Linked DNA regions of Homo sapiens. The protein of the gene in region 1 interacts with the protein of each later gene in a biochemical or structural test. Each region holds a gene or a part of one and is shown in the gene's direction. Other genes may lie near its edges.

Region 1 (7,023 bases):
TACTTGAGTGCCCCTATGGTGTTGGTGCTGTGAGGATACAGTGTACAAGAAGACAGACAAAGGTCCCTGTGCTCACTTGAGCAGCTCACAGTGTAGTGGGAAGTCAGGCATGCCCCCCCACCGCCCCAGGGATCAGACATAGTGGAATCATAAAGAGGGGTGAGTAAGTAAGGTCCCATGTTAGAGCTGCAGGATGGGATGAGGTCATCAAGAAATGCTTCTGGAGGGGCCAGTTGGGCTGAGACAGAAGCTGGGGCATGGAGGGCAGGGTGGCAGCCTTTGGAGAGAAAAGGTCCGTGTTCCTGGACAGTCTATGGGTTGTGTCATCCTATTAAGTGGCTCTTTACGTGTACTTATTTTCTCCCCAGGTAGATCAAAAGCTTCTGGAGGGCATGTTCTGTGTCTCATTCCTTCATGTCTTTCGCTACTCCTTCCACAAAATAGTTTCCAGTAAATGTTAGTTGACATGAATTGGTACTCAAATGGATGGTTAAAAGATGTGTATTGTGTAAGACACCATATCTTCCTTGTAATTTTTTTGGGGGTCAAGCAACAAACAGTTATTGAGGCTATGATATTAGAAATTAAAGACAAGCTTTAGCCCATTTGCTCTTTAAGGAACTCAGAATCTGAACATAGAACAGCCAGCAGAGCAGGTTGAACAAGCAAGTACACCATGTCGGGGTTCCCCGACTACACCATGTCGGGGTTCCCCGACTCCCCCATCTGTGGAGCTCATTGGGTCAGGCTTCCCAGGAAGCACATGCTGCACTGCTTGGGGTGGCCAGGCATGCAGATGGCAGATGGGGTGTGTGCAGAGGCTTGTGAGTGGGGCTGCAGAGAAACAAGCTAGTGGAGAGGAGATTGGCTGGCTTGTGTTTCTCTAGTGCCGTCATGTAGAAACGCTGGATTTGGGCAAGTGATTGACAGGGCATGAACCTCTGTCCTGACATCCTGCCTCTGTCCTCAGGTAATATTTGTTGAGAGTTCAAGGGCATAATATTTCAGAGCCCAGCAGTCTCACGCGGCTCTGCTGCGAAGTCCTTCTGGTGAACTGCTCTTCCATCCAGCCTCTCCTGTGGCCAGTAGGGGAGTGCAGACACAACGTCGTTAATAGCAACACATTTTTACAAAATTTACCTTTTCAAACCCCACCCCCTAGAAACCGTAGCTTCTTTAATGTCCCGCTGGCTGTGTGAAAAACAGGAATTTATGTAACAAGTCCTGCACAGCAAACCTTTTCCTGTTCGGAAAAAATTTTAATTGTTGGCAAAGTTAGGAAACAGCTCTGTTACTCAAAGAGCGACCTGAAATGTCCTCTTAGAAAAATATGTAATATGATGTTTTGATAAGTAGGAGACTGCTGTGGCTTTTTTTTTTTTAAAGTCTAAATTAGTATATGTCCCACCTGAGTTAGTGAACGCTTCTTGAATGTTTTAAAGATTTCCTTATTATGTCTCCTGCAGTCTTTTTAAAAATGACCCCCAGCTGGGCTTGCCAGTGATCTGACAGGCTTATCATGAATGTTAGAGAGCTTCACCCCCTCTCCCCAAGTCAATGCAACAACCAGGAAGCTTCTATCTGGGAAGATCTTTCTTCCCCCTTTATCATTAACTAAATGTGACAGGGACAGGAGTCAAGCTTCCTCTCCTCCAGAGATTTCATCGGAGCTTATCTGTGTGTCTATTGTGTTCAAAGAACAAAACTGTCATGATGGAATATTGTGCAAATGCCTGGACTTCCAGTGTATAGAAAATGTCAGGGTCAGACTGCAGGGCTGCATTCCAGTGCTACCCCAAGTGCGGGCCTGCTGATCTTAAGGAGGAATTAAGAACTCGGTTCGGCTGGGGTTGGTGGGTACAGCAGACAAGGCTGTGGCTCTGTGAGCATACATGTGTGTGTGTGGCGCCTTCCCATAGGAATTTGGGGATCTTAGGGGAATGCAATAGGATGGGAGGGAAATGTACTCCCTGGCCTCTTTTAGGGATTCTTGTACCTACTCTAAGCCCCTGGCCCTCCTCACAGCGTGTCTCGAGGTGAGGGTAGATCTTGGGTGTGGAGGAAGGTGGGGATTCTTGGGAACAGGAGACAGTCACTGCCATCACCACACACCTGCTCCGTTCCAGCCGGGAATCTGGGGCTCCGGTGGTGTCTTCCCCGCTCTCACACTTCACTGTATGCTCTGGCAGGAGGGCTTGTCACGTAGCTGCTGTGTTGAAATCTTTAGGCGGAATGCAGTACAGAGAGTCAGAGGGCGTTTTGAAATGTGGATTTCTCAGCCCTGACTGCTGGGCCTTACCCTGACTTTTGCATCTCCCTTTAGAAAGTGAGACCCCTCCATTTTCTCTCTTCTACCACCTTTTAATGAGAGAAGACTTCTCTCCCAGTTTGTGTTGGAGCCAGGCCTCATCCTGCTGTGCAGAGGCTCTGCTCAGGCGCAGTGGTTGGCACTCGGGCCCGGGCGTCCCATGTCAATGGCATGAGGATGTGGGCGCTGTGGCTGCACCCCTGGGTGACCACAAATCCAGCCAGAGCCTTTTTGTGGTTGAGAAGAGGGGCCGCAGAGATGCAGGGGGCATGGTCAGCTGAGCCTTGCATCCAGTTGGCAGAGGAGGCCAAGAAAGCTGGGAGACTGTGCACATTCCAGGGTCTTAGGGCACCCAGAATCCCACTCCTTGGGAGCAGACCTCTGAGGAAAGAGGCTGCTGAATGAACAAGGTGTAGTGGCTGTGTGCCCTGTACTGTGCTGGGGGCCAGAAGCTATAAGACAAGGCCCTTCCTTCTGGGGAGCTCACAGCGTTTCCCTCGTCTCCTTTTCCACGTGTCCCACGGACTCCCCTGAACACCATCTTACTCTGTGTTGTAGAGGAGGTGAATCAAACCATGGCTTTCTCATCTGCAGCCTGGCTCTGGTGTTTCTGCTGAAACTTGGAGAGACCACCTCTGGCCCCTTTCACCATATATTTGCAGTTGTGGGTTTGTATCTGTACTACTTCTAAGCTCCTATACATACCACACTGAATAGGAATAGAGAAGCAGGACTTTGGGGCGCAGGATACCACTATTCTAAGTTGGGGTCTAATATTCCCTTCATGGTGACTGCTTACATGCCAGGCACCGCTGAGCATTTTTATGTATCTCATTTAGTACATGTAACAACCCTGATAAGGCTCTGTAATTTAGCCCTGCTTTACAGGTGAGGAAACTTAAGACACATTAGGGGCTAGGCAGCTTCCCAAGGTCACCTAGGTAAGTAAGTAGCAGAGCCACCCAGGAAGTACTCAAAAGAAAGATTGTTGGTTTTTCTTCCCTAGTTGGCCTAGGGATGATAAACATGGCATGATTAGTTATGAAGCTGCGGTAGCTTGAGAGTTAGAGCTCTTTGCGTTCTCTGTCATTTCTTCCCATCCCAGGTTGTCTGTTTGGACAGTGTAGCCCCTGGCTACGTGGAGGTGTGTCATGGAGTTAGTTGGTGCATCCTGCTCATACTACTGGTCATTGGTAGAACTGGAGGGTAGGGGCACTACTTGAATTAAAAAAAAATTTCTTTTGGCAGGTCAGCTTTCTCAAATACAAAAGCAATGACTCTGTTTTCCTTACATTCACTTGTATTTGCTTAATGGGCTTTAAAGGTGTGAATGAATCCAAGTCTTATTAATTTGGGGGCCTTTAATTCTTGATCAGCTCTATATTTCTATATTCTTTTTTTTTTTTTTTTTTTGGCGACAGAGTGTTTAACTCTTGTTGCCCAGGCTGGAGTGATCTCAGCTCACCGCAGTCTCCTTCTCCTGCCTCAGCCTGCCAAGTAGCTGGGATTACTGGCGCCTGCCACCACACCCGACTAATTTTTGTATTTTTAGTAGAGATGGGGTTTCACCATGTTGGCTAGGCTGGTCTTGAACTCCTGACCTCAGGTGATCTGCCTGCCTTGGCCTCCTACAGTGCTGGGATTATAGGTGTGAACCACCATGCCTGGCCTATATTCTATATTCTATATATTCTATATTCTTTTGTCTTTTTTGTTTCTGTAAGTATGTGGGCCCAGTAATATAAAACTTCTTTATGTAAATGGCACAGGTTCAAACTGAAGAGAATTGGCAGTAGTTTTAAGGATAGTAGAATGGAAGGGGTTTTTGATAGCACTTTGATACAGAGTACTATTGTAGCTAAGCAAAATTTAAGCGGTTATTAAAACCAATTCCTTTGATTTTTCCATAAAATGTAGCTGTATAAAAGAAGGTATTTACAATACTCTTTATTAAATTTTGTCCCTTCATTAAATTAAGATATAGAATTTTTTTTTTTTTTTTTTTGAGATCGAGTCTCACTCTGTCTCCCAGGCTGGAGTGCAGTGGCACGATCTCGCCTCACTGCAAGCTCCGCCTCCCAGGTTCACGCCATTCTCCTGCCCCAGCCTCCCGAGTAGCTGGGACTACAGGTTTGCACCACCATGCCTGGCTAATTTTTTGTATTTTTAGTAGAGATGGGGTTTCACTGTGTTAGCCAGGATGCTCTTGATCTCCTGATCTCATGATCCGCTTGCCTGGGCCTCGCAAAGTGCTAGGATTACAGGCGTGAGCCACCGCACCCAGCCACAGATATTGTTTTTAAGATAAGATACTATTTATTCCTGTGCTATTTGAGATCTTTTGTAGTGGCTTCAGAGCCATTAGGACTGTTCAGATGGAAATCTGTAGCACACACTCTTAAGATTTTTTACTTGTTTTCCATGTAATACATGTAGAATAGGAAGTTTTGCAAGCAGAGAAGTATTGTACTTCTAATAAGATGTTTTGCCTTACAGAATTCAATTCGTCATAATCTGTCCCTACACAGCAAGTTCATTCGTGTGCAGAATGAAGGAACTGGAAAAAGTTCTTGGTGGATGCTCAATCCAGAGGGTGGCAAGAGCGGGAAATCTCCTAGGAGAAGAGCTGCATCCATGGACAACAACAGTAAATTTGCTAAGAGCCGAAGCCGAGCTGCCAAGAAGAAAGCATCTCTCCAGTCTGGCCAGGAGGGTGCTGGGGACAGCCCTGGATCACAGTTTTCCAAATGGCCTGCAAGCCCTGGCTCTCACAGCAATGATGACTTTGATAACTGGAGTACATTTCGCCCTCGAACTAGCTCAAATGCTAGTACTATTAGTGGGAGACTCTCACCCATTATGACCGAACAGGATGATCTTGGAGAAGGGGATGTGCATTCTATGGTGTACCCGCCATCTGCCGCAAAGATGGCCTCTACTTTACCCAGTCTGTCTGAGATAAGCAATCCCGAAAACATGGAAAATCTTTTGGATAATCTCAACCTTCTCTCATCACCAACATCATTAACTGTTTCGACCCAGTCCTCACCTGGCACCATGATGCAGCAGACGCCGTGCTACTCGTTTGCGCCACCAAACACCAGTTTGAATTCACCCAGCCCAAACTACCAAAAATATACATATGGCCAATCCAGCATGAGCCCTTTGCCCCAGATGCCTATACAAACACTTCAGGACAATAAGTCGAGTTATGGAGGTATGAGTCAGTATAACTGTGCGCCTGGACTCTTGAAGGAGTTGCTGACTTCTGACTCTCCTCCCCATAATGACATTATGACACCAGTTGATCCTGGGGTAGCCCAGCCCAACAGCCGGGTTCTGGGCCAGAACGTCATGATGGGCCCTAATTCGGTCATGTCAACCTATGGCAGCCAGGCATCTCATAACAAAATGATGAATCCCAGCTCCCATACCCACCCTGGACATGCTCAGCAGACATCTGCAGTTAACGGGCGTCCCCTGCCCCACACGGTAAGCACCATGCCCCACACCTCGGGTATGAACCGCCTGACCCAAGTGAAGACACCTGTACAAGTGCCTCTGCCCCACCCCATGCAGATGAGTGCCCTGGGGGGCTACTCCTCCGTGAGCAGCTGCAATGGCTATGGCAGAATGGGCCTTCTCCACCAGGAGAAGCTCCCAAGTGACTTGGATGGCATGTTCATTGAGCGCTTAGACTGTGACATGGAATCCATCATTCGGAATGACCTCATGGATGGAGATACATTGGATTTTAACTTTGACAATGTGTTGCCCAACCAAAGCTTCCCACACAGTGTCAAGACAACGACACATAGCTGGGTGTCAGGCTGAGGGTTAGTGAGCAGGTAAGTTCACCCCAATATCAAAAGACCTTTTGAAAAATAGAACTTAAAAGCGAGGAACACAGTAACTTGCCATGGTTAGCACATCTTTGATGTCAACTGACTGTCCCTTGCAGAGAGGGATCTTTTATCATTCATTCTCTGTCCTTTTTGCAGCTTACAGTTTTCCTTCTGAGCTTACACAGAAGGAAGCTTCCTTTAACTGCTTTAAAGATTTCTTTTTGACAGTTCGATGGCTGCATCTTTTTAGTAGCTCTTCAATAAATGAATACATTTGATATAAATCAAATGCTGAAGGGTTTTTTGTAAAGTAGAATTTTCCCCATTGAATGATTTTAGAGCTGTTTGAGAAAGCTCTAGCTTTTTGCCCCTAAGTATGTCTGTCACTCTTAACATGTTAAGTTGAATTGATTTTAATTTGGCTATATTTTCATTGTGTGTGTATGTGTGTGTGCGTATGTATGTGTTTTTTCCTAGGTTACACTTAAAAGTACTTCAGATTGTCTGACAGCAGGAACTGAGAGAAGCAGTCCAAAGATGTCTTTCACCAACTCCCTTTTAGTTTTCTTGGTTAAAAAAAAAAACAAAAAAAAAAACCCTCCTTTTTTCCTTTCGTCAGACTTGGCAGCAAAGACATTTTTCCTGTACAGGATGTTTGCCCAATGTGTGCAGGTTATGTGCTGCTGTAGATAAGGACTGTGCCATTGGAAATTTCATTACAATGAAGTGCCAAACTCACTACACCATATAATTGCAGAAAAGATTTTCAGATCCTGGTGTGCTTTCAAGTTTTGTATATAAGCAGTAGATACAGATTGTATTTGTGTGTGTTTTTGGTTTTTCTAAATATCCAATTGGTCCAAGGAAAGT
Region 2 (7,477 bases), on another chromosome or scaffold:
CCCCAGGCTGGAATCCGGGTCCCAAGCTTTTCCGATTTAGGAATTCCCCGAATCTACAAATATTTAGTCCACTTTTCTGAAAAACTAAATTCTGAAAAACACAAATTCTCTTGACATCCCTGTGACCTCTGAAAGCCACCAGGGCCAGAGGGAGGAAATCCCAGGTTGCTGTCCACTGGGGGAGGATTCAGGTCTAGGGTTCAGGTCTACGGTAGTCAGGGCAAAAGCTACAGGCAGCAGGGGCAGCACAGGAGACTTGCTGTCCCCGTGCCCTTTCCCGGGGCTGCTTTCGGCCTCCCGCATCTCTTCCAGGGAAAGGAAAAGAGGTGGGCTGGGGCTTGGAGACCAGGCTGTCTGGACTCTAGGATGCAGAGGCCTCCAGACAGGCTCAGGGTGCTCTTCTCCCATGAAAGCAGCCGCTGGGAGGAGGAGGCTATGGTGCATCCATAAGTTGCCCCTCTGCTCCCCAGTTGTGCGACCAGCTGCTACCTCCTTCCTAGTCTTCTTCCCCACAGCTCAGCCATTCTCAGGAACCAGACAGCGTCCATGGACTTAGGTGAGAGATGGGCCGGGTAGAGCCATGGGTCCTACCAGCCGCTGACTGAGCGGCCCACGGCACAGAGTCCTGAGTTCCATACTCCCATCTGTGCCTCACTGGCGGCAGTCCTGCTCAAATACATCCTGGCTCTCCCCGGGACAGGCTGGGGATCCCCATTTGGCAGGAAGCCTCAGACTGGGGTCCCAGGAAGCCTAAAGGAGCCAGTGAGGTCTTTCCAGCCCCTACCTGAGCACCCTCCTCCCCACTTACCCAGTAATTGCTGTATTCAAAGAAACGGGAGCTTTTATTGGGGAGGGGGTGTTAGATCAGGCAGAAAGAGGTAGGTGGTCCAAACCTGCACTCCCAAAACAGGGTTTTCAAGTTTGAACTTCTCCACGGACTAAGAGGCTTAGGGCTGGAATGTCCCAGAGAGTCATGGATAGCCCTGGTGGCAGGCCATGGCACATTCCTTCCTTTTTCCTAAAATACCTTGATTCTGGGAGCAAGGATTAGGGCACGGTGCCCCCGTGGGTGGGTAGAAGGATGCCCCCCCACTGAGAGCCTTCCAACCACCCTTCCCAAATTACATTACTAAACCATTCTTGGGCACAGGGTGTTTTTAGTGAGCCAGGCTTCAGGAAGGGTCCTCATGGTGACTACTTCAACCCCACAACAGCCCAAGCTCTTCTGCTCAGCCCAGCCAAGACCCTAAACTCCAAAATTCTTGAAAATCAGAGAATCATTGCTGGCTTTGTGTGGTCACGGAGGGGTGGGGAACAGGGCACATGGTTCCAGCTCCACTAAGCCCCCTTCCCTCCTCTCTTCGTGTCCCATCAGCAAGTGAGCTGGATGCTGAAGCAGCAGGCAGAGTCCGGTGTTGGACATGGGAACTGAGGCACAGTGCAGATCAAGCCTTAACCTTGAGGGAAACACAGGTCACATAGCACAGCTGGGGGAACACAAAGCCTCTGCTTACTCCTGAAAGAGTGCTGTTTTCTGTCCTGTATGTGTGACGTGTCTGTGAGCGTGCAAGAAGCCCCTATCTTGACTGGGACAATGGCCAGTGAGTGTAGCTGGGGAAGAATTGAGAGCATGTCCAGGTCCCTTCCCCAGCCAACGCCCAAGATCAGGCCACAGCCTCCTCACAATCAATTGCCTCCTCACTCCTTGATCACTCAGTGCTGCCCAGGCCCAGCAGAACAGACTCTGCCAGCAGGCCCCACTAGCCCCAGCTCCTCTTTGGGTCTCAGGTCCCCTGAGGATATGGGGCTTCACCTGAAATGGTCTGAGGGCTTTTCCTTCTACACAGCAGGCATCAAGATCACCAAATAAAGGGACTATTGTGCCTGCCTGGAGCCCTGCCAGAGGTTTGGGCCCAGAGGGGCACACAGCAGGTGCTCAATAACTGCATTAAATGCACTAACAGTGAGGAAACACGCCCCTCAGACTAAGCAGTGAGTGCTGCTCACAGAATAGTCCCCATTGGGGGATGGCCCAAAGAGTCACTTTGGTCCCTCTGGGAAGTGAGAAGGCAAGTGAGAAGGCTGTGAGTCTTAACCTCCTCTAGAGGCCCACAGACAGACCATTCATTTCTAAGTCTCTACCCAGAGACGCACTGTGCTTCCCACCTTGGCCTGACATGTGGCAGGGTTAGAACACACCTCCTATCCCCTGCCAGCCCGCGTTCATGCCAAGTAGCACATATATGCCTAAACTCAGCACTTCCATAGTGCAGTGAATACATGTGTGTGTACAGCATCTCCGCATGGATGTACAGGATGTGTGTGTGTGTGCGTGCCCCCATGCTGTCTGCATTCAGGCTGTTCTTTTTGGTAAGACAGCTAAAAAAAGAATGGTCTGTGAAGGGACACTCCCTAGCACGCTGCAACACCTGAATATCTCCTTGAAAGGAGGGATCTTCTACTGCAGGAGACTCGTGGTAAAGGTGGCCAAGAAACATGGCAACGGTGGGGCTGAGGGCAAATGCTGGGCAACTGTGCTTCCCCATGTTCCCCTCCCCGTAGCCAAGACTCATTTCATGGAGGGAGATCTCAGCTTGGAAGAAGGCAGGAGTCACTGAGCCTCCCCAATCCAAACCCCTGAGAAGTGTCCTCCCTCTGGCCTCAGACCCTGCATCCTGTGGTCACAGACCCACAGTGAGAAAGGACCAGGCCCTAAGGAGCTGTGCTGTCTCTCCACGGCCCAGAGCGGGGGATGGGGATGGGGATGGGGATGGGGATGGGGATGGGGATGGGGGTAGGGGTGGGGGTGCTTTGGACTAACGTGGAGGGAATGGAAGGCAGGCCTGGTTCCACCCTGCATGCCCGACCCTGGCCCCAGCAGCCCCCACAAGGAGCTCAGCTGACCCTGGGTGTCTCCCTGTGATGGGAAGGGGTAAGACGAGGACTCAAAGGCAGAACCTGCAGAGTGCCCCAGACGCTGATACCTGCACAGTCAGTGCCACCCACCCAGGAGTTGAGGAGGCACTGGGTTTTGGGGTGAGGACACTGGACACCTCCCTGCTTCTTTCCCAGGCAGACAATCCTGGCGCAGCTCCCTTGGGTTGCTGTGTCTGGTGGAGCTGATCACAGGTGAGGGGCAGAGGGCAGTCTGGGGTCCGCCTATGGCCAGAGGAGCAGGTCAGGGCGGCGCCTTGCCGCCCCAGCTGTGGCCTGTTTGCTCAAGACGCTGAGGTCTCGGGGCCAGCTAACAATTGTTGAGCAAAATCCTTCGACAAACTTCACCTACGTGCAAGGACTCGAGGAGGGAATCACTCTTAGGAGTGGGAGAGTAATGTCTTTGCCTGTGCCCAGTGAAGGCCCATTGGAGCTGCAGCTCAGCTACCACTGTGTGGGAGAGAAGCTGGAAGACTGAGGGCTTCCTGGGCTGCTGGCCCAGGGTTGGGAGACAGCAGTCACCTGGCTTACCAGGCCTATGCCTGAAGCCCTGGGAAGCCAGGACGCAGGCCCCAGGCTGGGACAAAGCTACCCTGAAGGAGGGCAAAGGCTGCCAAGGCCAACCCCATGCCTGCCAAGGCCAGGCCTGGCCCATTTGGCCAAGGCCTAAGGTGTAAAACAAGGGGAGAGGTACAAGAGGCTGTGGGGTCTGGCTGGGATCCTTGGGGTCTTCCTTCTGCATTCTCCAAACGCCTAGAGCCAGCAGAAACGTTTCGTCTGATTAGAAGCCATCATTTCTATCCCAATCCCGGAAAATTGACTGCGGTGCAGAGAGGGAGGCCTGAGAAGCAGCCGTAGGGGAGAAGGTCCAAGCTAATTAGGAGGCAGCATCCGGGGGCCCATTAGAGCGCAGGCTGCTGTCACTCAGCCGGGCTGAGTTCCCGGGAGAAGAGGCTGGAGAAGGAGGGGCAGGCGGCCCCTCGACGAGGACACCGCTGGGAGCTGCCGGAACGGGCCCCGGGCTCTGCCCCCGCCCCGGCGCTGGCTCGAAGGCGCCCGCTCGGTGCGATCCTGTTCGGCAAACATTCACTCATCCTGGGCTGTTCTCGCCAGGGCTGGGGACTTCGAGGCGGCCGAGACGGGAGTTGATTCTAGGCGAAACAAGTCATTTGAGGCCTGAGGTGTGCACGAGCCGCCCGGGACTCGCAGGCCAGATGCGTTTCTTTTGTGAGGCCGAGGGAGAACTCGGTGTGTCACCGGGGAAGGAGGGAGAGGCGCGGCGAGGCCGCGGGGGGCGGGGAGGCGGCGGGAAGGTGGCTGCGGAGGGGGAGGGCGCGGGCGAGGCAGGGAGGGAGGGAGGGCGGCAGTGAGGGCGCGGCGGCGCGGGCGGCTTGGGGCTGGATTCCGCCCGCGCTCCCTCGCTCGCTCGCTCCCTCCCCAGCCCCCTCCCACCCAGGCCCACCCCACCCAGCACCCCTGGCGCAGGGACTGCTGGAACCTGGCTGTGCGCGCTGTCGCTTTAAGACAGACTCTGCCGGCGCCGTCCGGAGCCTTAGAAACCGGCCCCGGATCGCGAGCCGGAGCCGGAGCCGGAGCCGGGGCCGGCCGGGCTGCTGAGGCCCGAGCGGCAGGAGCGCAGCGCGGAGCGCTGAGCCAGGCGCCCAGTCGCGAGAAGCTGCCGCCGCCTCTGCCCGCCCGGCGCCGCAGCCCCGGGCGGTCCATGGGGCGGGCACGGCGTCGCTGCAGGCGCCGGCAGCCCTGGAGGGCAGCCGCTTAGGCGCTGCGCTCTTGTCCCCGCAGGTCGCAGCCAGGGCGGCGGGGCGCGCCCAGCCCCGGCCCCTGGAGCGCCCGCCGCGGTCCCCACCTCCATGGACGCCTTCAAGGGGGGCATGAGCCTGGAGCGGCTGCCGGAGGGGCTCCGGCCGCCGCCGCCGCCACCCCATGACATGGGGCCCGCCTTCCACCTGGCCCGGCCCGCCGACCCCCGCGAGCCGCTCGAGAACTCCGCCAGCGAGTCGTCTGACACGGAGCTGCCAGGTAAGCGCCGTTCCCCGCGCGGCGCGCACAGAGCCTACCCGGGCGCGGAGCACGGGGAGCTGGGAGCAGGGCCTGACGCCCGCGCCGCGCAACCAAGCTCCCTCTCCGCCCCAGAAGCGTCAGGAGCTTTCTTTTTCCCGTTCTCGACCTGACGGTGAACGCGGAAACTTACGCACACGCGAAGGCACTTCCACGCGGTCCCCACGCGCCAAGAGACTGGCAGATGCACGAGCCTACAGCTGGAGGGTTGGACTGACAGCCCCTCTTGATCAGGAGTAAATAGAACGGGAAAGAATTTGATTTGCGCAACTGGGCGCTAAGGAGCGGCTCGGACGAAGGGAGAGGAGGAGACCGAGAAAGGAAGAGGGGTGACGGGCGAGAGAACGCACTCAGAGAGACAGAGAGGGAGGTTAACACCGTGACAGTAGGCGACAGAATGAAAGAGACCAAAGAGAAGGGGCGGGCGGGAAGGGTAAACGGGGGGAGAGGGGTCATCAAGTAGAAGGGAGACACAGAGGACGGTGAGGGCGAGCGGGCCAACAGGCGCGGCCGGACTCCCAGCAAGGCCAGCCGGAACGCCGATCAAGGGATCCGGCCCACGTGCGCGGCCGAAGCCCGGAGCAGCCCGGCTCTGGCCCCCGCCCCGGCTCCTGCGCGTCTCCCTCCGCGCTGCCTTTTTTTGTCCGAGCTGGAGCTTTTTTCCAGCAGCGAACTGGGCCCGCGGGTGGCCGGCGCGGGCAGTGGGGCAGCGAATCCGCTGCCCAGCGCAGCCGGCCGGGTTCCGGAGGGGCTCCGAGCTCCCCGGTGTGGGCGCCTCTTCTGCGTTCATTTCTTAATACACAGCTGAATGTTTCTCTCCACTTTCTTAGTATCTGTTTCTCTTTTGCATCCCTAAGTGATTTTTCTGAGAGGTTGTTTGCTTGGTTAAAACATAATCAACGCTGAACTCTACTTTTGTTTTCAAAAGTTTTAAGCGCGGTCTTTGGTTGGTTTTATTTTTAAAACCTAGAGAGATATATAATCGTATATTGATTTTTTTGAACCAAATCTATGAGGATGAATTAATTTTAACTGTATCTTTCGATTCTGAAAGAATTAACGTACGAAGTGTAGGTCTGGAATTTAAAATATCTACATGCAACATTATTCTTCCGGAGATTTTAAAAAGTCAATCCAAAATGGCGCGTTTCTCCGGAATTTTCTCAAAATCCATTTACAGTGGTGTTATTTGGGGAATTTAAATTATCTAACTATAATGTGTTTCTCTGGGATTTAAAAATTATCTCTACAAGGGCCTTATTGGGAAGGAGTTAAAAATCTATCTACAACGGTACATTATTTTTTTAAATCCCAGAGAAATAAATGCTTCTGTCAACCTGGAGTTTATACACTTACAGCTCTGTATTTAGTTAGGGGTGTGTTTGTACGGAGCTTTCTGGCTTCTTAATTTACATTTGCTCTGTGTTTCTTCCTGTCTGATTTTGAGAATTTGTGGCCCTTTCAGTGTCTTTAGGCATAGAGCTGTGAGCTTTTCTGGGCTTCTGTGTTTTGTTTTTAAACTCTTTTTCTTTATGTATTAATGTTTCTATGACTGCGTGTGTTTTGTGTAGCTTCAAAGAGAGACAGACTAAAGCCCGAGGTCACCTAGACAGAGTCTGTCTGTCTGGGCTGCAGTTGGTGGGGTTTTCTAGGCTTTGGGACTGGAGGCCTGGAAGCAAGGCCGAGAACCCGGCTGTGTTGTGCCTGCCCAGTGGGGCTCCCATACACCCCTGAGGAGAAGAAAGTGGAGGGACTTTAGGCTGGAGAGATCTGATCCTAGTTCAGAAAAGCAGAGACCCCCTCAGATTTAGACCCCCTAAGAGTTCGCAAAACAAACAAACAAAAAGCATACATTTGCTGGGAACATCAGCAGCAGGGTCAGAATCTGAGCCGAGCTAAGGGTGCAGGCCCTGCCCAGCCAGGAACGCAGGCCCGCGGCTCCAGCTCCGATTCTTGGGCTCTTCTCCGCGGCACACCAGACTAGAGGTGCCTACTGACGACCAGCACCCGGCGGGCGCTTTCCAGTGGGGACAGTTCCCAGGAACCCTAGAGGGAGGGAGGGAGGGAAGACCGCCAGCGCTGGTGGCGAGCGGTTCGGTGGAGCCGGGACGGGGTGCAACGGGGCGTAAGCCCAGGTGACCCGCTCCCCGTCCTGCCTACTGCAGAGAAGGAGCGCGGCGGGGAACCCAAGGGGCCCGAGGACAGTGGTGCGGGAGGCACGGGCTGCGGCGGCGCAGACGACCCAGCCAAGAAGAAGAAGCAGCGGCGGCAACGTACGCACTTCACAAGCCAGCAGTTGCAAGAGCTAGAGGCCACGTTCCAGAGGAACCGCTACCCCGACATGAGCATGAGGGAGGAGATCGCCGTGTGGACCAACCTCACCGAGCCGCGCGTGCGGGTGAGCAAGGGGTGCGCGCCTAAGGGCACCCGCGCAGAGGGCTCCCGGGCCGCCTCTGCTGCAGCCCTC
Region 3 (7,023 bases), on another chromosome or scaffold:
AACTTGCTGGACCCCCAGGTTCTGGTCCAGGGTCTGGGAGGAGGTTAAATGCAGGGAATCCGTCCCCAGGCTGGGCAGGGAAGGACTCCCACCCTTGGTGCCTGCACGTATAAGGGGAGGTGGGGTCAGTCTGGCACCCTGGCTGCTAGGTGGTCTGTGGCCAGCAAACCGTGCCCTGAAGCTTCTAGTTGGGAGGGGCAGAGGCCTTGCCCTGCAAAGCCCCAGGCTGAGGGGCTGGGGTTGGGGTGGGGTTTACCAGGACCTGGTTCCTGTAAGCCGAGGTCTCCTTCCCTGGCTCTTCCAGCCTCAAGCCAGCAGTAGCAGGGCAGCCTGATAGAGTAGGGCACCCCAGGGGTGAGGGGAGACCAGGAAGGCAGACACCCCTGTCTCCTGACAGCCTCGTAACCATGCAGGAGACTCACTGTGACTTGTCCCACACCCTCCCCAGTGTCTCCTCGGTTGGGGCTGGGGGCTTCAGGGATCAGGGAGAGGCTGGGTGCCAGCAGCGTGCCTGGTGGCACCTGGGACAGGGCCTTGCTGGGGGTGGGTGCTGTGGGTGTGCTCGCCAGGCCGAGGCATTGGGAAGGAACGAGGTGGGGAGCTCTCTGGAGAGGCACACGGGTGGGTACCAGCTGGAGGTGTTGCCTGAGCAGCTGGCAAGGCTGGGGCCTTCAGATTAGGCCATAGGTGAGTGGCCTGGAGCGCCTGGCCAAGGAGCAGAGCTGGGCAGGGGCCAGGGGCTGTGCTGGGCCTCTGTCCGGGGCTTTTCTCCGGGGAACGGTTCCGGGGCAGTGGGCTCGAGACTCTGGCCCTGGGGATTGCATACTGGGGCAGATCGGACCATCCAGGAGCGAGTGGGAGGTGGGTGTGCCGGGGCTTCACACCGGTTTCCACTTCTCTGGCCTGTGTTGACACAGGCCACCCTCCCCACCAGGCTGGTCCCGAGCCCCCTCCTGGCCCCCAGGCCTGGAAGACAGCTTCCTTGCTGCCTGGCCAGGCCCCCTTGTGGTTGCCAGGGCCTCGATGCTGGAATGTCAGAGGCCCCCCACTGGCCCCTCAGCCTCCTCCTGCTTTGCACAGGCTGGGCCAGAGCCTGCCACGGAGCCCCAGCGGCTACACACTCCACTCACTCACACCTCTCAGGGCCCCGCACGTTCCCACAGCCCTCAGGGTGTACGTGCTGTAGGTGTGGCTGTGCCCCAGGTATGTGTTCCCCAGGTGTGCTTGTGCCCCAGGTGTGGCTGTGCCCCAGGTGTGCGTGTGCCCCAGGTGTTCGTGTGCCCCAGATGTGGCTAGGTGTCTAGATGTGTTCTAGATGTCTGTGTATTCCAGTGTGGCTGTGTCCCAGGTGTGCGTGTGCCCCAGGTGTGTGCCTCAGGTGTGCGTGTGCCCCAGGTGTGGCTTTGCCTCCAGTGTGTGTGTGCCCCAGATGTATGTGTGCCCCAGGTGTGGCTGTGCCCCAGGTGTGCCTGTGCCCCAGGTGTGGCTGTGCCCCAGGTGTGCCTGTGCCCCAGGTGTGGGTGTGCCCCAGGTGTGGGTGTGCTCCAGGTGGCTGTATTTCCCAGGTACTCAGGGTGAGGTTGGGAAAAAAGCAGGACATTTCTACACTAGGTGGGACAAGCAGGTTTCTGGGGTGCCCCCCTCATGCCAGCCCCTCTGTGGGATCTCCATACCCCTCATCCTCTGAGGCCTGGCGCACGGCGGGGCTCAGAGACTGAAGGAAGGACTGTAGGAGTGGACGATGGTGGGGGTTTGACCTGACGCCGGGCCAGATGCCCTGTGTGGCTGCCTCAGCCTGGAGTAGAGTGTCTGAGCTGGAACAGGGGTCCTAGCCCCACTCTGTGAGGCGAGAAACTGAGGCTTGGAGAGAGGAAGAGATGGGGCTTCCCAGGACCTGGTGGGTGGTATGCAAGGGGAGCTGGCTGGTGCAGCGGGGGCTGTGGTGAGGGCCCTGGGAGGGGCAGGGGGATGCACGCAGACAGAGGCTCTGCCTGCCCGCAGAGTGCCAGCTGATGAAGACGGAGCGGCCCCGGCCCAACACCTTCATCATCCGCTGCCTGCAGTGGACCACTGTCATCGAACGCACCTTCCATGTGGAGACTCCTGAGGAGCGGTACGTGGGCTGTGGCGGCCAGGCCAGGCACTTGGGCAGCCCCAGCGCTTAGGAGGGACACGGGGATGGCGGGGTGCTGGCACCTCTGCCTGTAGCCATCCTCACTCCCCAGTGCTCCCAGGCCCTCCTCAGAGCCCAGTTTGGAAACTGGCCCAGTCCTGCCTGTGGGGTTTGGGTGGGGAAACTGAGGCTGGAGATAAAAACTGGCTAGGGACCGGGTGCAGTGGCTCACGTCTATAATCTCGGCACTTTGGGAGGCCGAGGTGCGCAGATCACTTGAGACCAGGAGTTTGAGACTAGCCTGCCAACATGGTGAAACCCCCGTCTCTACTAAAAATATAAAACTTAGCTGGGTGTGGTGGTGCACACCTGTAATCCCGGCTACTTGGGAGGCTGAGGCACAAGAATCGCTTGAACCCGAGAGGCAGAGGCTGCAGGAGCCGAGATTTTACCACTGCACTCCAGCCAGGGCGATAGAGCAAGACTCCGTCTCAAAAAAAGAAAAACCCGGTGGAGAGGGCCAGTCCTCCTTGGGGGGCGGAGTCCTGCTTGGGAGGCGGAGTCCTGCTTGGGGGGGGCGGAGTCCTGCTGGGGGGCGGAGTCCTGCTGGGGGTTGGAGTCCGGTTGTGGGGACAGAGTCCTGCTGGGGGGCTAAGCCTGGGTGTCCCCCACGTCCAAGAGGGCTTCGTGACCCTGAGTGTATGTGGCCAGACCAGGTCAAGTGGTGGCCTCCTCAGGGCTGTCTCTGGGAACCCCGACAGCTGTGGAACCACGCTTGTGAGGCTGGCGGGTGGGTGAAAGACGTGGGGTGGAGCTCCTGATCTGGTACAGGCCTGCAGCCTCACCTGACCTCCTGCAGGGAGGAGTGGACAACCGCCATCCAGACTGTGGCTGACGGCCTCAAGAAGCAGGAGGAGGAGGAGATGGACTTCCGGTCGGGCTCACCCAGTGACAACTCAGGGGCTGAAGAGATGGAGGTGTCCCTGGCCAAGCCCAAGCACCGCGTGGTGAGGCCTGTCCCCACTTCTGCCTGTGCCTGGGGCTGCCTTGGACTGTGGAGGGCTGGGTGGGTCATGGGGTCCCAGCTCGGCCCAGGAGACACTCAGCACTCCACGGCATCTCCACCTAGGCCGGTTTTCCATGTAGGGCGCAGCTGCTTCCCAGGTGGGTCCTCTTCCCCATGTCAGAGGAAAACTGGGGTTGCTGAGCCCTGCCAGGCTTGGGCAATGTTACCCCACCCTTCCCTGAACCCCATGCTCTGAGCTGGGGCCGCAGCCATGTGTTCCCTGTAAGCCTGGACTCCCCGCTGAGCCCAGTAGGCCACCAGGTGTGAAGTGGACGCCTCTCCTGGCTCTGCCTCCGACTCTGGGGCCCCTCATGCCACCCCACGCATGCCGACCAGCTGGGCACTGTTGGCAGCGCCGCTTGCTGACCCTGGTGCCTGCCCATAGACCATGAACGAGTTTGAGTACCTGAAGCTGCTGGGCAAGGGCACTTTCGGCAAGGTGATCCTGGTGAAGGAGAAGGCCACAGGCCGCTACTACGCCATGAAGATCCTCAAGAAGGAAGTCATCGTGGCCAAGGTGGGGCCGGGGCGGTGGGGCAGGGTGGAGATGAGGGTGCGGGGTGGCAGCTCACCCAGCCCTGCTTTACAGGACGAGGTGGCCCACACACTCACCGAGAACCGCGTCCTGCAGAACTCCAGGCACCCCTTCCTCACAGTGAGTGGGAGCCCAGATGGGGCTGAAGGGCTGGGGCCAGGTAGCGACTCCTGGGGCTGTCTCTAGGGGACGATGTCCTGTCTTCTTGGGCACGTGAGGGCTTTACACACCGTGGACTCCGCCGCTGGTGAGACAGGCCTGCCCTGGAGGGTCAGGCTGTGGAGGTGCCCAGTGTGGGCTAGGGGCTGTGCTCGCTGCTCCCGTGTGCGGGCAGGTGGGTGGGGCAGGTGGCCCTGGTCTTCCTTGCACTCTGCCGAGGCTCCAGGAGGCCCCAGCTCCCCATGCCCTGCAGCCCTGCCTGCCAGGCTTTTGTTGAGGCCCGGGCTCTGTCCTGCAGAACCTGTTCTGGGGACTTGGCCCAGGAGGTATTTACTGTGAAGGGGGCCAGGGTCCAGCCACTTGGTTAGTTCCAGGTCACTGTGTTTGGGGACGATTCTCCTGCAGATGGGGCCTTTGCTTTAAAAGCACAGTCGCCTGTGGTGGAAGGCGGGAGGGTGGGTCTCGCCTGGGAGGGTGTGTCCTCCCTTTGCGAAGGCCCTGGTGCTGGGAGCACTGTCCCCTGCTGAGGTCCCAACTCACCCTGGAGGACCTGAGCCCAGGCCACCTTGCTCACCTTTCAAACACTCCTTGGCACCTCAGGGGCTGCCGGGGCCCAGCCTGATGGTGGCGTGGCATGAGGCAGTGTGGTGTGGGGCAGTGTGGTGTGGGGCAGCGTGGCATGGGGGCAGTGTGATGTGGGGGTGTATGGTGTGGGGCAGTGTGATGGGGTGTGTGGTGTGGGGCAGTGTGGTATCGGGCGGTGTGGTATCAGGCAGCGTGGTGTCGGGCAGTGTGGTGTGGGGCTACGGGCGGTGTGGTATCAGGCGACGTGGTATCAAGCAGCGTGGTGTCGGGCAGCGTGGTGCGGGGCTGCCGTCCTGCCTGTGGGGCCGCAGTTCCAGCTCCCCTTCCTTGCAGGCCCTGAAGTACTCTTTCCAGACCCACGACCGCCTCTGCTTTGTCATGGAGTACGCCAACGGGGGCGAGGTAGGGGCTGGGGCTGCGGGGGATGGACTTCGCGGCCTGTGGGCCGCCCATGGTGGGGCCGGTCCTTCCCGGAGCCTCGGCTACTCTCCATGGCACCAGACGGTGCTCCCTGCTGGGTGGGTGGTGTGATGCCTGCCCAGGCAGCTGCCTGCTGTGGGGTGACTTGTTCCTGCTGAGTTAGGGCTTCTGAGACTTTCCAGGCCCCCGTGCCCTCTGGTGGCTGGTCCCTTCCCTGTGCAATGCCGAGACCCGGTCTGAGAAACCCCAGCCCTGCAGGCCATGGGGGCAGAGGCCCGAGCCACGGCTGTGCCTCAGGTTGCGCCTCCCGCAGCTGTTCTTCCACCTGTCCCGGGAGCGTGTGTTCTCCGAGGACCGGGCCCGCTTCTATGGCGCTGAGATTGTGTCAGCCCTGGACTACCTGCACTCGGAGAAGAACGTGGTGTACCGGGACCTCAAGGTGCGCTGGCGGGCAGGCAGGGGGGCAGGGCCCTGGGGGCCTGGCGGCACTGACCTGAGGCCACCTTTCCCCTAGCTGGAGAACCTCATGCTGGACAAGGACGGGCACATTAAGATCACAGACTTCGGGCTGTGCAAGGAGGGGATCAAGGACGGTGCCACCATGAAGACCTTTTGCGGCACACCTGAGTACCTGGCCCCCGAGGTGTGCGCCCCACCTGCGTGCATACGCGTTGCTGCGTCCCCACGTCCTGAGCACACGCAATGCTGTGTCCTCTCTGTGCCCCAAGCACGTCACACCTCCCCCGGCAGTGTCCCGGACACCCCTTGATGCCGAGTCCTGCCCATCTGCCACCCGTGCAGGTGCTGGAGGACAATGACTACGGCCGTGCAGTGGACTGGTGGGGGCTGGGCGTGGTCATGTACGAGATGATGTGCGGTCGCCTGCCCTTCTACAACCAGGACCATGAGAAGCTTTTTGAGCTCATCCTCATGGAGGAGATCCGCTTCCCGCGCACGCTTGGTCCCGAGGCCAAGTCCTTGCTTTCAGGGCTGCTCAAGAAGGACCCCAAGCAGAGGTGAGGGCCGCCCATCCCAGCTACAGGCTACACCTCCATCCCCTCATCCCCAGGCTGCACCTGCCCCTGCGCCAGGCGGTCCTGGCACCTCCCAGACTACACTGATAGCCAAAGCTTGATGTCCTTGGCCAGGGCTGATCTCCAAAGCCTCAGGCCCAAGCAGAGTGGCGGGCAGGCCGGGGTCAGTTGGGCCTCTGTCCCCAACCCTGCAGCCTGCACCCACCCACTCAGGAAGCCCCTGCCCTGCCGTGAGCTCTGTGGTGCTTTGCTACCCACAGCTGCTCAGGGACGCTGCACCACCGGCTCCCCTCCCTGGCCCCGGAACGTCCTGTCTGGCGGGCCCTACATCACAGGAGGAAGGGGCCTGAACCCAGGGCCTGGGCAGGTGGCGGTACCGACACTGTGGCCTTGTTTCCTGCCTGCAGGCTTGGCGGGGGCTCCGAGGACGCCAAGGAGATCATGCAGCATCGCTTCTTTGCCGGTATCGTGTGGCAGCACGTGTACGAGAAGAAGGTGCGGCTGCTCCCCGCATATTCACGCGCACGCATGCTCCCCACATATCCACACTCACGCATGCACGTGGCACGCTCGCCAGATTTCCCACACACTCGCCCTCACCTCAGGAGCCTGCTGCAGTCCTGGTACAAGGAGGGCCTTGCTGCACCAACCTCAGCGCCTGGTGCTCAGAGGCTCTGGCACTGCCGGGTTCCACCAGGAAACTGGCCTGGTCCTCATTTCCTCCTCCCCTCGGAGGTGTGTCACACTCTGAGTTTCCTCCTCCCCTCGGAGGTGTGTCACACTCTGAGTGCCAGCCTTGGGGTTCCCTTCCCTGACGCTGTGCAGTGAAGGCTGGCTGGTGGTGGACCAGGGGTGCTGCCCCTTGGCCTCCACGAGTTCCTCCTGTTTGACCTCAATCCCTTCTGCCGCAAGGAGAGCCCAGCCCTATTTCTGGCTGTGCAGGGACAGGGACAGCACCTACTTTTCTGGCACATGGGGGAGTCCGCCCTGGAGGGAGGCAGCTCTTTCTGCATGAGTCGCCATCCTGGGTGCTCATCTTTCAGGGACCCTAGGAGCCCTGGCCATCACCCCAGCTGATGGGGTCTGCCAGCTGGGTTCGGAAGCCTGCACT
Region 4 (7,023 bases), on another chromosome or scaffold:
TAAATAACATTTTGACAGTCTTTATGGAGTAAGTCTGGGCCAAAATGATAATTGACAATGTTATTTACATGGATTTCTAAGTTGGCTAAAAAAGTTCCTTTATGGTTAGTGAATATAGCCCATGTAGTTTCCCCGTCTTCTTTAGATGCCTTCTATTTCTATGCCCAAAGTCTGCAGTTGATTTTCAGTAAGCTGGGGGTCATCTTAGAGATAAAATGTAGATGAATGGCATTTTGCTGACAGCATACATCTTTGCTATTTCTGAGGAAAATGGGCTCTCGCTATTAAATCTTTTGTCAATATTTATAAAAATAGTATTTACATATTCTATCTATATTGTGGAAACTATACATTTATTGATTCAGTCATTTGATATCAATGTTGTTGAGTCCCTATTCCAAGTGAGGCACTATGCTCTAAGCACATGGCATTTTAAAGATGAATAAGACACCAAGAACTTTGCAGATAGTAATGGAAATGAGAATTAATCAATTGAAGATTAATATAGTAAGTAGCAGAAGAGAAATAAAAAAATCTTCTAGAGAGTTCAGAACAGGGATGTTGATTCAAGTTTATGGGGATTAGGAGTGGCTGGTAAGGGAGGCATTCAGGCAAAAGACATAAAAATGCAGTATTCCCCTCGCACTCATTAGGATGGCTACTATATTAGAAAAAGAAGAGAGTAAGTGTTGGAGAGGATATAGAGCAAATAGAAACCTTGTGCCTTGTTCATGAGAATGTAAAATGGTGCAGCCACTGTGGAAAACACTGGTGATTCCTCAAAAAATCAAAATAGAATTATCATATGATCCAGTAATTCTACTTCTGGGTATATATCTAAAAGAATTAAAAATCTGGGTCTTGAAGAAATATTTGTATACTCATAGTTATAGCAACATTATTCATAATAGCCAAAAAGTAGAAGCAATCCAGATGTCTATAGATGGATGAATGGGTAAACAAAGTCTGTGTAGTATATACAGACAATGGCATATTAGTCACATCATGGACCTTCAGGACATTATCCTAAGTGAAATATGCTAGACACAAAAAGCAAAAGTAGGGTTTCACTTAATGAGGTATCTAGAATTGCCACATTCACAGAGAACAAAAGTAGATTGGTGGCTGCTAGGGGATAGGGGAAGGAGAAAATGGGGAATTATTGTTGAATGGGTATGGAGTTTCAGTTTTGTGAAATGAAAATGTTCTGAAGACTGGTTGCACGATGATGTGAGTATATCTAACATGATTGAATTGATGAACACTTAAGCGTGGTTACGATGGTAAATTTTGTGTTATATATATCTTACCACAATTTAAAAAATATAGCATTTTATTATGTAGGCGTGGGTGGGAAGATACTTGACACATTGGAACTTCTGGCCATGCGTATACTGTTCACTCACTTATTCCTTCATTCATTCAACAAACATGTATTGAATGCTTGCTATGTGCTGGGCACTGAGCTAGATATAACAATTAATAAGGCTTATAAGACATTGAATCTATCAATTTCATGCTTGCTAAATATCTACTCCCACCTCCAAAGGCACTAAGCTTCTACAGTTAGATATTCATAGCTGCTTCCTACTGACTTGAATCATGCATAGGATATTAGTAAACAAGCAATAAAAAGATTTGAGGTTGATGGGGGTGGGTTCAACAGCATGGTGGTGAAATGGAAAGAGATGGGTAACAGAATATGAACTAGAATTGAAAACTGTGAGCCAGTGCTCTCTAATGAACATTAAAAAATAAAGAATTCCTATTTGAGGCTGCCAACCTCAGAACTAAGTTATTTAGAATGGACGAAATTGGCAAAGTCAGACGTACTCAACCCAAGGAGCCAATATTTTGTGAATATTATGGCAAATGTAGTTTGAGAACCACTACCACAAAATTGTGAACCATAATAATGACTGAGAAGGCAGGGAGAGGTTATACAATTTGGGCTAAAAGGAAAGACAGGGCTTGTGAAGGGGAGCGCCAGTGAAAGTCAGTGTGGTTCGGGTATTTGGGTGGGGACTGGAAGCAGGAAGCTTGAGCTTCCTTTGCCAAGAGACCCTGCTGGAAGGGCTATCATCAATTGACTTTAGCTCATCTTAGGATTTTCATTTTTTAAAAAATGTTCACAGGAACCTTCACTCCATCTATACTTTCAATGTCTGCCTACCTTTCTTTCTTATACAACTTTGAACACTCTCTCCATTCATTTAAATATATTATGGAGTGCCAACTACATGCCAGGTACTGTGCTGGGCTCTTATTCCACCTTTATTTGATTGCACATGCCTGCCAAGTCCTGGGCCAATATAACATCTACTCCTATGTCTGGTCTGGCGAGAGATGCAAACTCATCTTCCTCTACTTTCCTTACCTCCTTCCTTCCAGTCTTCTTCAAGTTGTCTTCATTGAGGCAATTTCTTTTACCTGTGTTTTTAATCCCAACTCCTCTAGTTTCCTTCTTGGCTTTATTCTTTTATCTTCCTCTTTGTGCTTTCAAACATTCCCTTTCTCCTGGCCCATGCCCTTCAGTCTACACGAGGCCTTCTCAAGTCTCTTCATTCTAAAAAATTCATTTTCTTGGGTCTTATATTCTTCAGCTGCCACCCTATCTGTATCTTTTCCTATTCTCCTCCAAGTTCTCAAAGGAATGCCTTCCCTCATTTTCATCTCCTTACATTCCATCTGCTGAATTTTGGCTTGTGCCTGTACCTGTCTAAGGAAACTCCTTGCTAAGAGTCTGCTTTGTCAGGTCTGAATTCACTTAACCAGTCTTTGCTTTGTTGGACTTCTCTGCCCCATTTGCCATTCTTGATCATCCTCTCCATAAACCTTTCTACTTAAAGCATTTTACTTCCTTATTTTCTTGGTTTTCCTAGAATCTCCTTACTGTTCATTTTCAGCTTCCTTTCTGTGTTCCTCTTCTCTTCCTACATTTTTTTTTAGCTTTCTACTTTCTTAAAGCATTTTACTTCCTTATTTTCTTGGTTTTCCTAGAATTTTCTTACTGTTCATTTTCAGTTTCCTTTCTGTGTTCCTCTGATTGTCTCTCTTTCTACATTTTTTTTTTCTGTGTTCCTCTGATTTTCACGCAGTCTGGAGTTGTCATGATCAATCATAGCCTACTGCAGCCTCGACATCCTAGGCTCAAGTGATTCTCCCACCTCAGCCTTACAAGTAGCTAGGACTACAGTCACACATCACCATTCTCAGCTAATTTTTTTAAGAAGCATTTTTATAGAGATGGAGTCTTGCTATATTGTGCAGGCTGGGCTCAAACTACAGGGCTTAAACAATTCTCCTGCTTTGGCCTCCCAAAGTGCTGGGATTCCAGGCATGAACCACCATGCTCAGTCTCTACATGTTCCTAAAGAGGAGTTTTGAATATTGAAGAACAGTATTTTCAAATTACATTATTCAAGTTATAAAAACTGATATCCAGGGTTATGTGGCAATGACGTAAAAATTTGAATTGTTATTTTTTTGACACATGTTCTGTGTTGTCCATCAGTTCATCTGAGTTCCAAATGTCCCAGCTGTTTTATGCTTTGTCTCTGTTTCCCAGAGACCCTGAGTGTGGTCTAGAGTTGGGATGAGCATTGGTCTCTAATGGTTCTGAAATAATTGTATATTCCTGCAAAAACATTAAGTCTATTAGAAACCAGCTAATTTCATTTTGTCATTTTTATAGGTAACATATTCTGGTGCAGGTAGTATGTTTTTAAAACAAGTTTGCAATAAACAATTTCCCCTCAAGGTTAATATAATAGGCAACACCTTTTGCTGCAACAGACGGCAAGAGGTAATGAAAGATTAGCTTACATTATGATTCATTATTTCAAAATGTCAGGATAAAGTGGATCTGCTGCATCTCCCAGAGAGTGCATGTTTTGCTTTTCTAATGTTAATGGATTTACTGTTTTTTTCCCCCCAGGCCAAATTCAGATAATCGACGCCAGGGTGGCAGAGAAAGATTGGCCAGTACCAATGACAAGGGAAGTATGGCTATGGAATCTGCCAAGGAGACTCGCTACTGTGCAGTGTGCAATGACTATGCTTCAGGCTACCATTATGGAGTCTGGTCCTGTGAGGGCTGCAAGGCCTTCTTCAAGAGAAGTATTCAAGGTAATAGTGTGTTGAAAACGACTTCTATTTTTGATCCTATGAGCAGATCCTAAGAGCCAAAGCGACTGAGGAAGGAAGACATAGAATCAGCCATTTGTACAAAACATGAATCCCTAGTAGGTCCACTAGTATCTTTGGTAGAAACATGGAGAAGAGACAGGATCTCAGGAGAAGGAGTTGACACATGGCAGGGCAGCTGAGGCTGAGTAATTCCGCTTCCTTCCTTTGGCAAGACTCAATCAGTCTTGAGCAACTCTACAGAAGAATTCCACTAGCTGGATCTCTGAGGAAAAAAGAAATGTTGTCTGTGCCCTGACTGGGGAATGCCAGATGGACATTCATGTTTGGTAGGCAACTTTGCCTATATGATCTGGTATATGCTGTTAATTGTCCATGCATAATTATCTCTCTACTCAGGCCTTGTCCAGGCAAATATTCTGTTTTGTTCTAGTTTAGCTTGTTCTCCCCTTTCTCTCTTCCATCTCTTTCTTGTCTCAATGGATGACAGGATATTTTGCTATGAGCTGACTCAGTGGTTGGTGTCTTGTAATGGGGAGATATCATCTTTATCAAACAGTTATTAAGTATCTACCTGTAGCATTTCATTTTCCCGCCTGCCTCCATTGTTTTCTTGTCTATAGTTTGCCAATTATAGCTAATATACGGAGAGCTATACTTTATTTCTACTCCAGAAATGTCTCTATTATTGCATTATAATAGGATACCCTGGGGAAACACTAATCATTTTTACTACCTAAAATACCTATGCTGAATATCCTTTATCTGATAGGAACAGAGATCTGACAGCAGCTTAGGCTAACCAAATTCATTTTTTATCTTAAGTGTGGGGCATTTTTCTCTCTTCTTATTCTTTACCTTTTCAGCTTAAGTGAAGGTTAGTATAAACACTAAGAATATTTCTGATGGAGTTTTCATGTGATTCCTTCTACAAAAACCCAGATTTAAGTAACTTGTTGAAAACCAGAGTCCGCTAAGTTAATAAACACTGATTGAAGAAGTGATTCTCATGGACTTTCTGTGATAGCTCTTTCCTGCCCTGATATGAGATGAAAGCTGGGGGATGGTATATAGTATTTATTTTTCCTTCCGTTGCCAGTGGGACTTTTTTTTTTTTTTTAAAAGCTGTTCATATCTTAATCGAGTAGCATGTGAGGTCAACATGGTCTATTTTAAAAGCATTTTCTTCGACACATTGCTTTTAACATCTTTTAGAACTCTGCTGTGAGACACATGGACTTTTTTGTTGGTATTTTTATACAATTAATGATATTCTCAATAGTAATCTTTGTGTGTGTATATATATAGAAATAAATTCTAAATGTAAGTTAATATATTTATTATTTTTCTAAACATATATAAATATATATATGCACACAGGCTATTTAATTTTATTAGATGATGCTATTTTAATTCAGAAAAAAATGACATTTATATTTTGATTTAGGTTAGTATAAGCCCTTAGAGGTGTTTTGACAACTCTCTTAATTTGTGGTTTTACTGTTTATTTGATTTTATATAATCTAAAATACCATTGTTTTTACCAAGCATTTAATTTGGCAGTGAAAGAGCGTCTGACAGAGGTATGGTTAGTAGATAGGTCTAACTGCACAACTGGATGGATTGAGCTGAGACTGTTTCCTCATCAGTAAAAATGATTTGAAGCAGTGGTTGGCAAAGTTTTTCTGTAAAGGGCCAGATAATAATATTTTAGGCTTTACAAGGGCCATGCAGTCTCTGTTGCAGCTACCGAACTGGATTATAGCCTGTAAGGTGACCTGTAAACACATGGAAGTGATTATGTGCTAATAAAACTTTATTTATCAGAATAGGTAACAGATCAGCCCTGGCCCGTGGCCGATCCCTGATTTAATGTTTATTTATCTGATCTAAATACCTTTATTTATGGAAGGGAATAGGGGATTTTTAAATCTAAAGTTTTGATTATTCACATTTTACTGAGAACTTACTCTATACCTGATTAGATGTTCCGAGAGAAATAAAAAAAAAGTGTAAGACATAATCCATAATACCACAAAATTTAAAATGTATTTAGGAAATTTATTTGAGGAAGTAAATGTACTTGTTCTCATGATACAATCAGAAAGTAAGTCAGTATTGATAAAGTGTTACCTGTATGAGAAAGATAAGGAAAACAATAGAGAGATGTAAGAAATGAAAATACCAGTTATAAATTAAAATTATTAAGATTGAAAGTGGAAATGATCTTCCTCCGAGAAACAATGGCAATATTCTCACAAATTTTTTACATCATTTTTGTTCAGCATTTAAGATAAAATTATATAAATTCCCATAACATTTAGTATTGTCTCTAAGCATTAAGAACAGAAAAAACAGAAGGAAAATATATTTCTAAAAATCAACGAATACAGTGTGAGATGTTTCATTGGTATGGCATTATCTCAAGTTCAAACATTTTGAAAAATGTCTGCTTACTCTTTGATAGTTAAAAACAAGTATCTCAGCTGGCGTGGTGGCTCAGGCCTGTAACCCCAGCAGTTTGGGAGGCTGAGGCGAGTGGATCACAAGGTCAGGAGATCGAGACCATCCTGGCCAACATGGTGAAACCCCATCTCTACTAAAAATATGAAAATTAGCTGAGCGTGGTGGTGCACACCTGTAGTCCCAGCTACTTGGGAGGCTGAGGCAGGATAATTGCTTGAACCTGGGAGGCAGAGGTTGCAGTGAGCTGAGATCATGCCACTGCCGTCCAGCCTGGTGACAGAGTGAGACTCCATCTCAAAAAACAAACAAAACAACACCACCACCACTAACAAAAACCTCTTATCGCCGTCTTGTATACGCAGACCAGCTAGTAGAATTTTACTGAAACAGTAGCCTATAAAAATGCAATTC

Evidence for each region.
Region 2: the proteins of FOXO1 (region 1) and PITX1 form a complex in vitro, tested with the Homo sapiens proteins (one study listed by BioGRID).
Region 3: of the proteins of FOXO1 (region 1) and AKT1, one has a biochemical effect on the other in vitro, tested with the Homo sapiens proteins (4 studies listed by BioGRID).
Region 4: the proteins of FOXO1 (region 1) and ESR1 form a complex in vitro, tested with the Homo sapiens proteins (2 studies listed by BioGRID).

Annotation. Positions count from the first base shown.
Region 1 is NC_000013.11:40,558,642-40,565,664, reverse strand, and holds part of FOXO1 (forkhead box protein O1), read left to right. Parts: exon of another isoform or gene 1-2,976; intron 2,977-4,804; coding exon 4,805-6,142; 3' UTR 6,143-6,156; intron 6,157-6,630; 3' UTR 6,631-7,023. UniProt on the Homo sapiens protein: Transcription factor that is the main target of insulin signaling and regulates metabolic homeostasis in response to oxidative stress.
Region 2 is NC_000005.10:135,031,207-135,038,683, reverse strand, and holds the start of PITX1 (pituitary homeobox 1), read left to right. Parts: upstream 1-4,455; 5' UTR 4,456-4,734; coding exon of another isoform or gene 4,735-4,802; coding exon 4,803-4,971; intron 4,972-5,143; exon of another isoform or gene 5,144-5,410; intron 5,411-7,175; coding exon 7,176-7,408; intron 7,409-7,477. UniProt on the Homo sapiens protein: Sequence-specific transcription factor that binds gene promoters and activates their transcription. May play a role in the development of anterior structures, and in particular, the brain and facies and in specifying the identity or structure of hindlimb.
Region 3 is NC_000014.9:104,771,749-104,778,771, reverse strand, and holds part of AKT1 (RAC-alpha serine/threonine-protein kinase), read left to right. Parts: intron 1-2,001; coding exon 2,002-2,113; intron 2,114-2,972; coding exon 2,973-3,120; intron 3,121-3,564; coding exon 3,565-3,696; intron 3,697-3,768; coding exon 3,769-3,834; intron 3,835-4,791; coding exon 4,792-4,860; intron 4,861-5,191; coding exon 5,192-5,317; intron 5,318-5,392; coding exon 5,393-5,521; intron 5,522-5,679; coding exon 5,680-5,894; intron 5,895-6,319; coding exon 6,320-6,407; intron 6,408-7,023. UniProt on the Homo sapiens protein: AKT1 is one of 3 closely related serine/threonine-protein kinases (AKT1, AKT2 and AKT3) called the AKT kinase, and which regulate many processes including metabolism, proliferation, cell survival, growth and angiogenesis.
Region 4 is NC_000006.12:151,838,660-151,845,682, forward strand, and holds part of ESR1 (estrogen receptor), read left to right. Parts: intron 1-3,937; coding exon 3,938-4,128; coding exon of another isoform or gene 4,129-4,134; intron 4,135-7,023.